Homo sapiens: one gene and its partners. The protein of the gene in region 2 interacts with the protein of the main gene of each other region in a pairwise test. Each region holds a gene or a part of one and is shown on either strand. Other genes may lie near its edges.

Region 1 (3,231 bases), on a different chromosome or scaffold from region 2:
AAAAATTCTAAAATTTTTAAGGAGCCAAAGAAGACACAGAACAACCAAAGTTATCTTGAGGAAAAAGAACAAAACGAAGGATCACATTACCTTCAAATTATATTACAGAGCGATAGTAACCAGTAACAGCACGGTACTGTAATAAAAACAGACACATAGACCAACGGAACAGAAGAGAGAACCCAAAAACAAGTTCAGACACCTACTCATTTTTGACAAAAGTGCCAAAAACATACACATGGGAAAAGACAGTCTCTTCAATAAATAGTGCTGGGAAAACTGTACATTCATGTGCAGAAGAATGAAACTAGTCCCCTATCTCTCCCCATATACAAAAATCAAATCAAAATGAATTAAAGACTTAAATAAAAGTAAACTATGAAACTGCTATAAGAAAACATTGGGGAAACTCTCTAGGGCATTGGTCTCAGCAAAAATTCCTTGAGTAAGATTCCACAAGCACAGGCCACCAAAGCAAAAATGGACACATAGGATTACATCACGTTAAAAAGCTTCTGCACAGCAAAGGAAGCAATCAACAAAATGAAGAGACAACCCACAGAATGGAAGAAAATATTTGTAAACTATGCATCTGACAAGGGATTAATAACCAGAATATATAAGGAGCTCAAACAAATCTGTACGGAAAAAAAAAATCTAATAATCTGATTAGAAATGGACAAAAGAACCAAATAGATGTTTTGGAATCCTCATTCGCTATTAGTGGGGATGGAAATTAGTACAACCACTATGGAGAACAGTTTGGAGGTTTCTCAAAAAACAAAGAATGAAGCTACCATATGACACAGAAATCCCACTGCTGGTGCTAAACTCATCTTTAGCATCAAACCTAATCTCTAGTCCCTGACACCATGAGCTACTACAGCAGCTACTATGGAGGCCTGGTATACATCCAAAGGAAGGGAAAACAGTATATCAAAGAGATATGTGCACTCCCATGTTTGTTGCAGCACTGTTCATAATAGCAAAGATTTGGAAGCAACCTAATTTTCCACCAACAGATGAATGGATAAAGAAAATGTGGTATGTATACACAATGGAGTACTAGTCAACCATAAAAAATAATGAGATCCTGTCATTTGCAACAGAATGGATGGAACTGGTCGTCATTATGCTAAGTGAAATAAGTCAGGCACAGAAAAACAAACTTTGTATGTTCTCACTTATTTGTGGGAGCTAAAAATTGAAAACAATTGAACTCATGGAGATAGAGACTAGAAGGATGGTTAACAGAGAATGGAAAGGGGAGTAGGTGGGTGCAGGGTAGGGGTGGGGAGGGATGTGAGTGATGGAGGAGTAGGGGTGGTTAATGGGTACAAAGGAATAGAAATGATGAATAAGACCTAGTATTTGATAGCACAAAAGTGTGGCCATACTAAGTTATACTCTCTTAGTTATTTTAAAATGTATAATTAAATTGCATTTAAATTAAATTATTGATTTAATCGAACATTTTAAAATAAGAGAGTGTAATTGAATTGCTTTAACACAAAGGATAAATGCTTGAGGGGATGGATACCCTATTTATCATTTACCAGTGATTATTACTCCATTAACCAGTGATTAGTATGCATTGTCATGTCTGTATAAAAGTATTTCATATACCCCATAGATATATATACTCTACTATGTATTCTTAAAAATAAAATTTGAAAAAAGAAAAATAATATTTAATGGAACTTCATGGGAAAAGTGTATGCAGAGGAAAAGGTACACTTTTGAAGTTAATGGATGAATAAAAAATTGGGAAGAAGCCTAACAAAAAATTGGCAGAGGAAGCTAATTGAAGGTTTCTCATAGAAATTAAGGCAAGAAAGCTTTACAAAAGAATGAATGGATGGAAGGTTAGCAATGTCAAAGGTCAATTAAAGTTCAAATGAGTCAAAAACCAAGGTTTCCTCTAAATTTGACTACTGGAAATCACTAATGACTTTGTGACTATGCCCTGACTACCATGAAGAGAAGTCCTTGGGTTCTGGGAATGAAGTAACCAAGACGATGGACTGCAAATTAAAAAGAAAAGCAATATGAGGTTATGTAATTACAGCGTTACTGGAAGCTATCAACCCGATTAGACCATTTTAATTACAACACCAGCCTGGCCTTTGAAGTGGCTATAATCATTTTTCATCTTCAAAATATTTTGTTCTTAGGAATGCAAACTAAAGACTAAAAGTCTTTAAATAATAGTTTGGACCCTTTGTTACATAAGAAAAGAAAAAAAATAAACAATTGTTAGACTTAAAATTATTCTGTTATGTGGAAATAAGATCACCTGTCATTGTTGTTCATGACACCCACTACTTAGAGTATAAAATCATTCTGAGAAGTTAGAGACACCTACACTCAGGAAACTCATCATTAGCATTGAACTGAATCTCTAGTCCCTGACACCATGAGATACTATGGCAGCTACTACAGAGGCCTGGGATATGGCTGTGGAGGCTTTGGTGGTCTGGGCTATGGCTGTGGCTGTGGAGGCTACAGATATGGCTCTGGCTATGGAGGCTATAGATATGGCTGCTGCCGCCCATCATGCCGTGAAGGATATGGATTCTCTGGATTCTACTAAAAAACTTGCTGATTCTCATACTCTAACTCCAAGATCTTGCCCGTATGCTTCAGCAAGGCGAACACTTTTCTCAATGTAGAGAAAATACCTACCATTTTTTGGCTTCATGCTCCAGAAGGAACTAGCCATCAGTTTTTATGGAAGAATCTGGAATCATTACATTGAATCAGGGTTTCACCTATTATTATTTAGTCACTGACATCTGTTGTGACATGTATTTTAAAATAGTTTTAAATAAACACGTTTAACTTGAATAGCAAACATGGCTTTATCAATTCATTTTAGTACATTTCAAATGCATTGATGAGACTTCAATCAAGCTGTTTGTCTTCTTTCCTCTGAATTGGTGTTTTTATTTCAACAGTTTTGCCTCAATAATATATTTTATTCAACATATATTCATTGTGTGTCTCCAAATTTGGGCACCATTCTAAGTCCTGAAGATATAAAAGAATAAGATGGACAAAATCACTGTGTACTTTCATCTGTCTTTACTTTTTATCTGTTTTCAGTGGTTTTGTGTGTGATTTTGTTTTTAGAATATGATTATGTACACTATTATTTTTATGACTTAGTTTTAAACAATAACTTATTGCAATCTTCATTCCAATTAGTGTGTTTGTATTCTGAGGTTTATC
Region 2 (3,751 bases):
CACAGATGCCCTGTAAGGGTCTGGCGTCTCTGCGGCGGCTGGAGCCTGAGGGAAGCCTTACAGCCCAGTGGCTACAAGCACAGCAGCTAATTGGGCCAGTCACTTCCAGCCCCTGCAGATCGGCCCCTGCATCCCTAGGACGGGAGCAGCTGCCTCTCAGGAACCCATCCGGTTTGAAGCCCAGTGGCCCGCACTTAGGAAGTGCTTGGGGGAGGCAGTCATCTTCCTGAAGCCTAGGGATTTACAACAAAGTACAAACCCTTCGGGCCCAGGTCAGGCACCTGTTCTCCTTGTGTGTGGGCCCTGGTGGGTGATATTTGGGGTGTGACATTTCTACCAAAGGGGACATGAGAAATACCTTAGGAAAGTCAAGTCTCAGATGCCCAGCCACAGATAGGTGACCCCAGGGCTGGAAACCAAGTGTTGGTCATGGGTCTGAGACCACCCCTCGACCTTGGCCCCACCTAACGTTCAACTCTGTCCCCACCAGAACCCAACCCACAGATCCTCACCACTCAGCACCAGAAAGCGCCCAGAAGAACTCCTGACCTCGACTGCCCACAGGGTCTAAAGGTGTCATCCCAGGCTCCGAATATCCACCAGAGAATCTTGGCCTCCGCCACACCCACCCCATTCCAGCTCCGCACATCCAGCATGAATCCTGGCCTCTGCCACACCCACCCCAATAATTAAAAAGAAAAAAGGCTGGGTGCGGTTGCTCACACCTGTAATCCCAGCACTTTGAGAGGCTGAGGTGGGCAGATCACCTGAGGTCAGGAATTCAAGACCAGCCTGGCCAACATGGTGAAACCCTGTCTCTACTAAAATACAAAAATTAGCCGGGCGTAGTAGCGGGCTCCTGTAATCCCAGCTACTCCGAGGCTGAGGCAGGGAGAATTGCTTGAACCCAGGAGGCGGAGGTGCAGTGAGCCAAGATCGTGGCATTGAACTCCAGCCTGGGCAACAGAGCAACACTCCGACTCAAAAAAAAAAAAAAACAAAAAACAAACAAAAAACAACAAAAAACAAAAACAAACCCTCTGTCCTCCTGCAGGGCTCTCTCCAGGGTGGGCTATGCGTCCTCCATGTTTACCAAAGTCACTCTTCTCCTCATCCGGAGGGCCTCTGCGGGGCAAGTAGCCAACCCGTGGCACGGAAACCAATTCCCCCATCCCGAGCAGGGAGCACACCCCACAGAAAGTCAGGGGCCCCTTCTTTAACTTCTTAACAGGAAGTCCTCACCCTGCAAGGGCGCCTCTCAGGTTTCGGATCCCTGCTAAAGAAAAGCATCTGTTCTTGGAGTAAACTGCAATGCGCGCGGTGGGGAGCGCCTGGCACCCCCCCTCGGGATCCATCCACAGTCCGTCTTGTCCAGAGGTGCCCTGCGGACAGACCGCACCGGGGGCCACGACCCCGCGCCCCGGGTCCCACCTCCCCGCGGGGATGGGGCGCCGGCCTCCCCTCCACTGCGCGGCGCTTTGTCCTCGGGTTCCCGGAGCAGACGGCGGCGCACAGCCCGGCCCCTGGCCCCGGCCTCCCTCCCGCCTGCCCCGACCCCTCCCTGGCGCCTGCGCTCCCAGGGCCCCCGGCCTTACCACAGCCGCTCGCTCCCTGCACCCGGTCCCCCCAGCCGGGTCCCCCAAGCCGCCCCCGCTCCCTGGCCAGGTCCGGCCGAACCCGGGCGGCGGCGACACTCACCCGCGCCGGGGGCGCCGGCTCCGGGCCCCGGGCTCCGCCACCAGCGCAGCAGAGCCCGCGCGGGCTCCAGGCTCACGGCGCAGCGCTGCTGCTTCACCCACAGCACGGATTGCAGCGGCTCCGCCGCCCCCGTCGCCCCCATCTCCGCCGCCGGGCTCGTCCGCCAGGCTGGGGGCGCGCGGACGCCGAGGGGCGCCGGACCGTTAGCGGCCCCTGCAGTGGCCCGGGCGGCGGGCGGCGGGCGGCGGGAGGCGGCGCTGCGTCACCCCGTACGCGGGCGGCGGGGACCGCGGAGGGGACGGGCGGGGCGGGGGCGAGGAGGAGGCGTGGGTAGAGGAGGGGCCGGGAGCCAGGGAGAGACGGGGGGACCCGAGAAGGGGAGAAGAGGGAGGAGGAAGGGGCCGGGATGGGGCTGGCCGAGGCCAGGGCGCTGGGGCCGGGAGGCGGCTGCCTTTCTCTCCTCTCTTCTCCGGCGGGTGCCGGGTGCTGAATCTGGCGCTCCCGCGGCCGGCCGGGACTCAGTGGCGCCTTCCGCGCGGGCCTCGGTTCAGGCGGGGTCCGGGCGGCGTGGAAACGCAGTCCTGGCGATCGGGCGCGGCGGGGGGCGGGCCTGGATGGGGGCGCCACGGGCGACGTGACCTTGGGCGGCGGGTGCCCTCTACGATCCTGGCGTCCTGTCGGCCTGGGAGGGGGCCTGCAGCTGGGCCCCGACAGGCAGGTAAGGCTTTCAGGAGGCGGAGGTCTTTTTAGGGGGCGGGGGCGCTGGCCCTTTGAACTGCTCTGGGGCCTGAAGCCACAGAGCAGACAGCTGAGCAGCCGCCCCCGAGCTGGCCCTAGGAACCGGAGCCTGGGCCCCAGACTTGGAGAGACACGGCCCCTGTGGCCCCAATTCACCGCCTCCCCAGGAAGGCCTCCTTGACCCCACAGCTGAAGGAATCACCAGCCTGCAGGGACTCCAGCCCTGCCTTCAGAGCACGCCGTGCGCCTTCATGCAAGCTCCAGTCTCTGCGTCCGCAGTGCTTAACACAGCCCCATAGGAAGCAGCCACAACCTGGTTCGGAGGGCACATCCCTCCCTGATTTATCAGTGAAGACTGTGCTCACAGAGGTTAAGTCACTTGCCCAAGAGCACAGGGCTCCAGTGTGGCAGAGCCTAGGCTCACACTGACACTGCCTGGATGTGACACTGAGGTCTGAGGCCTGCCCCTCCCCTCGGCTCCCCTACCCAGCCCTGCTGCTGCAGGCAGAGGTGAGGTGGGCTAGGTCCACGTGGCCTTGCTGCTGTGCCTGGCACCAGGTGGCAGCATATACAGGTCTTACCCTGCCAGCTCCTTGTGACTGTCTTGTCTATAGGGCGGGAACCAGCCATGAATCATTCCTCCCTGGGAGCCCAGCCCCTGTTCAGGCCATGCAGTGAAGGCCCCAGGACAGTCCTGCAGCCACCGTGGGCCCAGTCAGAGTCCTAGCAGGCAGTACCTGATCGTGGCACACAGTGGGGTGTGCAGCAGCGAGGCCTGCCCAGCCTCCTCCCTCCCTCAGCTGCCGCTCTGAGGCCTGGGAAATGTGGATCTGAAACTTACTTGGAAAGAAAAGCTCATGCCAGTGGCAGGAGGGTGCCGCTGCATGCGAAGAGGGTTGGCAGGCAAGGGTGGCATGGGCAGGGGCCCGAGAGCACCAGCGTCCCTACTGGGGACCCCTTCCCTGGGCCTCCCTGTGCTTAGGCTCCCCGTGCCCCTCCCGGCGTATTCACGTTGCTGTCCCCCGGCTGCACGCCTTGGCTTAAAATCCTGCAGCCAGAGGTGGGGGCCCAGAGACGACTCAGAAGTGCTTAGGCCCCGAAGGAGCTCCGTTGGGGGAGACAGCAACATCAGTTACAAAACACACAGGAGATTCAATGAGGCTGTTAGGGTGGGCCCTCATCCAGCGCGTCCTTACAAGAAGAGGAAATGTTGACCGGGCTCTGTGGCTCACACCTGTAATCCCAGCACTTTGGGAGGCTGAAGCGGGTGGATCACCTGAAGTCAGGCATTGGAGACCATCCTGGTCAACATGGT
Region 3 (3,751 bases), on a different chromosome or scaffold from region 2:
GCAAGATATGTTTGGGGGAATCTCAAGTTAGCCAATACTGTTATTGTGTGAAGTTCACAACAGGGGCAGGGAGGACAGGAGATGGGGCCCAATGACGAAAAGGCCTTGTATGTACCATGTTTAGAAGTTTGAATTTTATCCTATAGGAGTCAGGGAGAGGTTCTATGGGTAGGATTTCCCATCCCAACAGGATTGTAAACTCCCACATCCAATTAGTCACACCTCCATTTTTTTTTCTGTTTCTTTAACATTGTCTCAGATTCATTCCTTCTGAAATCTACCTTATTAGTTCAGGTCTTCTTAAATTTGTGCCTGGACTGTTCACCAACTCTTGACTGGTCCTGGGGCTCCAGTTCACCTCTTGCTCCCAACAATCAATTTTCTACAGAACTATCAGAGCAATCTTCCTTTCCATCAATCTCAACTCTGTTCAAAAACTTTCAATAGTTTTATGTGACCTAAGAGGTAGCTGCCTCCCCACCCTTTCAGCTTGCCATTCAAGGCTGCATAATTTGGTCCCAACCCCCTTTCCGTCCTTGACTCCTCTCACTGCTAACAGAGACAGAACTCATTTACTTACTCTTTTGACTGTACCTTTGCTTTCACGAGGGCTCTTTCCTGGAATGATATGTCCATACAACTATTGTTGTTGTTCTTACTTTTAGCTCTTTTCTTAGCCCACTTGTACCCAGGTTTGATCACACCCCCTACTCTCCTGCCCTGGAAGTAACTACTATTCTGGTTATAGTCTCTTAATATCTATATCTATATCTATATATATGCATCCACAGATAATGTGTAGTATTGTCTTGAAAAAAATATACATAAATGGTATACTTTGTCTCCCTCTGCGATTATTTTCACTATCATTTAGTTTTTAAGATTTATCCCTATTGACATAAATAGCTATAGTCTTTTCAATTACTGTGTTGCATTTCATTTTATAAATATACCATACATTATTCATCCATTCCTCTAAGGGTGGGCATTTATGTTGTTTTCAAGGTTTTGCTATTACAGTGTTACAACGAATATCCTTAGCTTAGCTGGTCTCCTTGTCTTATACAAATTTTACTGACCTTTCAAGATCCTGCTTTCATCCCAGCTCCTCTGGGAAAGCCTTCCCTGAATCCCCCAGCCCACAGCGGCAAAGTCTTGGTACTCAAAGTTGCTTGTGCATCTTTGGTATCATCCCACTGCCAAGCACACAGCTACGCAAAGTAAGGCACTTAAGAAATATTCGCTACACGGATGAACAAATGAATGAATGAATGGGGCAGCACCACTCCGTGATGGCTCTATTCCTTTTTAATGGACTTTGGCGCCTTGGCCCACTTTCCTTCTTTGACAGCACTGGTCCTACTCCAGAGCATTCCTCTAGCTAGCAAAGCAGTGTGTGGATGTGTGGGTGTAGGTGGCGATACAGACCTCACTGGATGAGGACCGCCTCTCCCTGCAAGTTCACGATCCCGGCAAACTCCAGTGCTTGAAGTTCAGAGTCCTACCCCACCCCCCTCACCTCCACGCCCCTTCTGCACTGGTCAAGCCAGCGAGCCGCTGCAGCCCTGATCGAGTTAAGGCTGCTGGAGAAGGATGCGGACGGGGCCAGTGACTCGTAGTAGATCCCTCCGCGCGGAGCTCGGGCCGGCGCTTCTTCCTGCGGGAAACCCCTGGGTGCCCAAGGCGGCGGGGCCGAGGCCGCGGCGACAGTGGGGCGGGGCTTGCGGTGGGAGGAGGCGGCTGAGGCGGAAGGACACACGAGGCTGCTTCGCTGCACACCCGAGAAAGTTTCAGCCAAACTTCGGGCGGCGGCTGAGGCGGCGGCCGAGGAGCGGCGGACTCGGGGCGCGGGGAGTCGAGGCATTTGCGCCTGTGCTTCGGACCGTAGCGCCAGGGCCTGAGCCTTTGAAGCAGGAGGAGGGGAGGAGAGAGTGGGGCTCCTCTATCGGGACCCCCTCCCCATGTGGATCTGCCCAGGCGGCGGCGGCGGCGGCGGCGGCGGCGGAGGAGGCGGCGACCGAGAAGATGCCCGCCCTGCGCCGCTCTGCTGTGGGCGCTGCTGGCGCTCTGGCTGTGCTGCGCGACCCCCGCGCATGGTGAGTATCGGGCTGAGGGGCGCTGTCCGCGGCGCCCGGGGCTGCCACCTGGGGCGACCCTTCTCCCCCTCGGTCCTTCTCTGTGTGGGAAGGCCAGGCTCGGCCGCCGGCGCGGAGCGAGGCCACTCGCTGGGTTCCCGAGAGTTTGGACATCGCCGGGGGCCCCTCCCGTGGTGCCCCGCCAACCGCCGGGGTTCCCCGCCAACCGCCGGGGTTCCCCGCCGCCTCTGCTCCCCGCGGCCCGGGACCCCTCACACGCCTCCTCGGCAGGAGGGAGGCCGGCAGCAAGTCTCAGAAACTCCTTTTTCGTAGTGCCAGGGTGCAGGGAGGTGGGCAGTTTTGCCCTTCAGGTTCCGCGTTTCTTGGGGTCGAGCGAGAGCCGACGGCGGGCCTCGGAGGGGCTGAGCGAAGGCGTGCCAGATTCTGGCGTGGAGAGCGGGGGCAGGGCCGCCAAGCCAAACGGCCTGCACCTTCGCAGCCAGCCTCGCCTTTGCCAGGGGGCGGCACATGGGCCGGGTGTGTGGGCTTGGTTTGGATGGGGACGGGGTTTTGCGGCGCGCCTGAGTTTTGACACTCCAACCCCACCGAAAGTCCGGAGGAGCCGGGTGTGCTGCTCGCGTCTTTGAAAGGTGGAGGCAGGAGAAGTAGGGCAACTGGTGTGGCTGCATGCTGAGGCACATGATTTAAAAATCTCAACTGCTGTTATTCTTTCCGAGGCGCGGAGCTCTGCTGCTGTTTCAGGCTGTGTCCAGACCCAGGAATGTGGTGTGACGATCACCAATTCCTCCAACCTGGCAGCAGCATTTGCTGCTCCTTTGGCATGGCTGGGGGTGGGGCACGGGCGGGTGAGAAAAAGTGGATACGTCAATTCAAAGGGCTTCCTTAGAAAGCTTCTTTATGGTTGGATGTTTCTAACACGGTTGGACCAAGGAAAGGGAATCAAATCATATCTTCCCCATCCCACCCACACTTTTAGATTCTACATTTCTTCAGACCCTTTAGTGGAAATAACTTGGGCTTTGGAGCCCTGCTCTGTAATCCTGGATTCAAATCCAGCTCTGCTATATGAACTCACCAATAAAATGGGAATGAAATTATCCAGCTAATAGGATTAATTAAAATAATGTATATTAAACGGATGACACTCCAAAGGTGTTCAGAAAGTCCTTTGAGGGCCGAGGCTGTGTTTTACTGCTTCTGAGATTGATGCTCCCAGTGGGATGGTGTCTTGTGCATATTTGTTGAACGGAAAGCAGCCCCTTCTTTTTCTGAGCCTAATCTGAATAAAGATTTTTACCTTCACCAAAAAACTAGTACATGAACTACATCTGTTTTCAAAGAAAAGGTTAGGAAGATGATGAGCTTCAGAAAAATATGGTCTTTGTTCATTGTTAACAGTCAGTCGACATGTCAATCGCAGATGTTTAAAAAGAGAACAAGGTTATTTATCACCCGAAAATAGTACTGGGTTGTTCAGCACCAACTAGATACTTCTTGGAAAGTTCAAATTTCGTACACGTCTAGGTCACTAAGAATTTCAGAAGTGGACCAGGAGGCTTTGTAGTGATGAAGCAGAGCTGTTGTTTCTGAAGCATTTAATAAAGAGCATATATGATGGTGTTTTTGCTTTTCCTTTTTCTTTGAATGAAAGCTTT

Evidence for each region.
Region 1: the proteins of CERK (region 2) and KRTAP19-6 interact in binary tests that used the Homo sapiens proteins (3 or more experiments, as listed by UniProt).
Region 3: the proteins of CERK (region 2) and NOTCH2NLC interact in binary tests that used the Homo sapiens proteins (3 or more experiments, as listed by UniProt).

What each region holds. Positions count from the first base shown.
Region 1 is NC_000021.9:30,541,019-30,544,249, reverse strand, and holds KRTAP19-6 (keratin-associated protein 19-6), read left to right. Parts: upstream 1-2,385; 5' UTR 2,386-2,416; coding exon 2,417-2,593; 3' UTR 2,594-2,715; downstream 2,716-3,231. UniProt on the Homo sapiens protein: In the hair cortex, hair keratin intermediate filaments are embedded in an interfilamentous matrix, consisting of hair keratin-associated proteins (KRTAP), which are essential for the formation of a rigid and resistant hair shaft through their extensive disulfide bond cross-linking with abundant cysteine residues of hair keratins.
Region 2 is NC_000022.11:46,736,309-46,740,059, forward strand, and holds the start of CERK (ceramide kinase), read right to left. Parts: upstream 1,945-3,751; 5' UTR 1,841-1,944; coding exon 1,699-1,840; intron 85-1,698; exon of another isoform or gene 1-84. UniProt on the Homo sapiens protein: Catalyzes specifically the phosphorylation of ceramide to form ceramide 1-phosphate.
Region 3 is NC_000001.11:149,388,827-149,392,577, forward strand, and holds the start of NOTCH2NLC (notch homolog 2 N-terminal-like protein C), read left to right. Parts: upstream 1-1,794; 5' UTR 1,795-1,961; coding exon 1,962-2,096; intron 2,097-3,751. UniProt on the Homo sapiens protein: Human-specific protein that promotes neural progenitor proliferation and evolutionary expansion of the brain neocortex by regulating the Notch signaling pathway.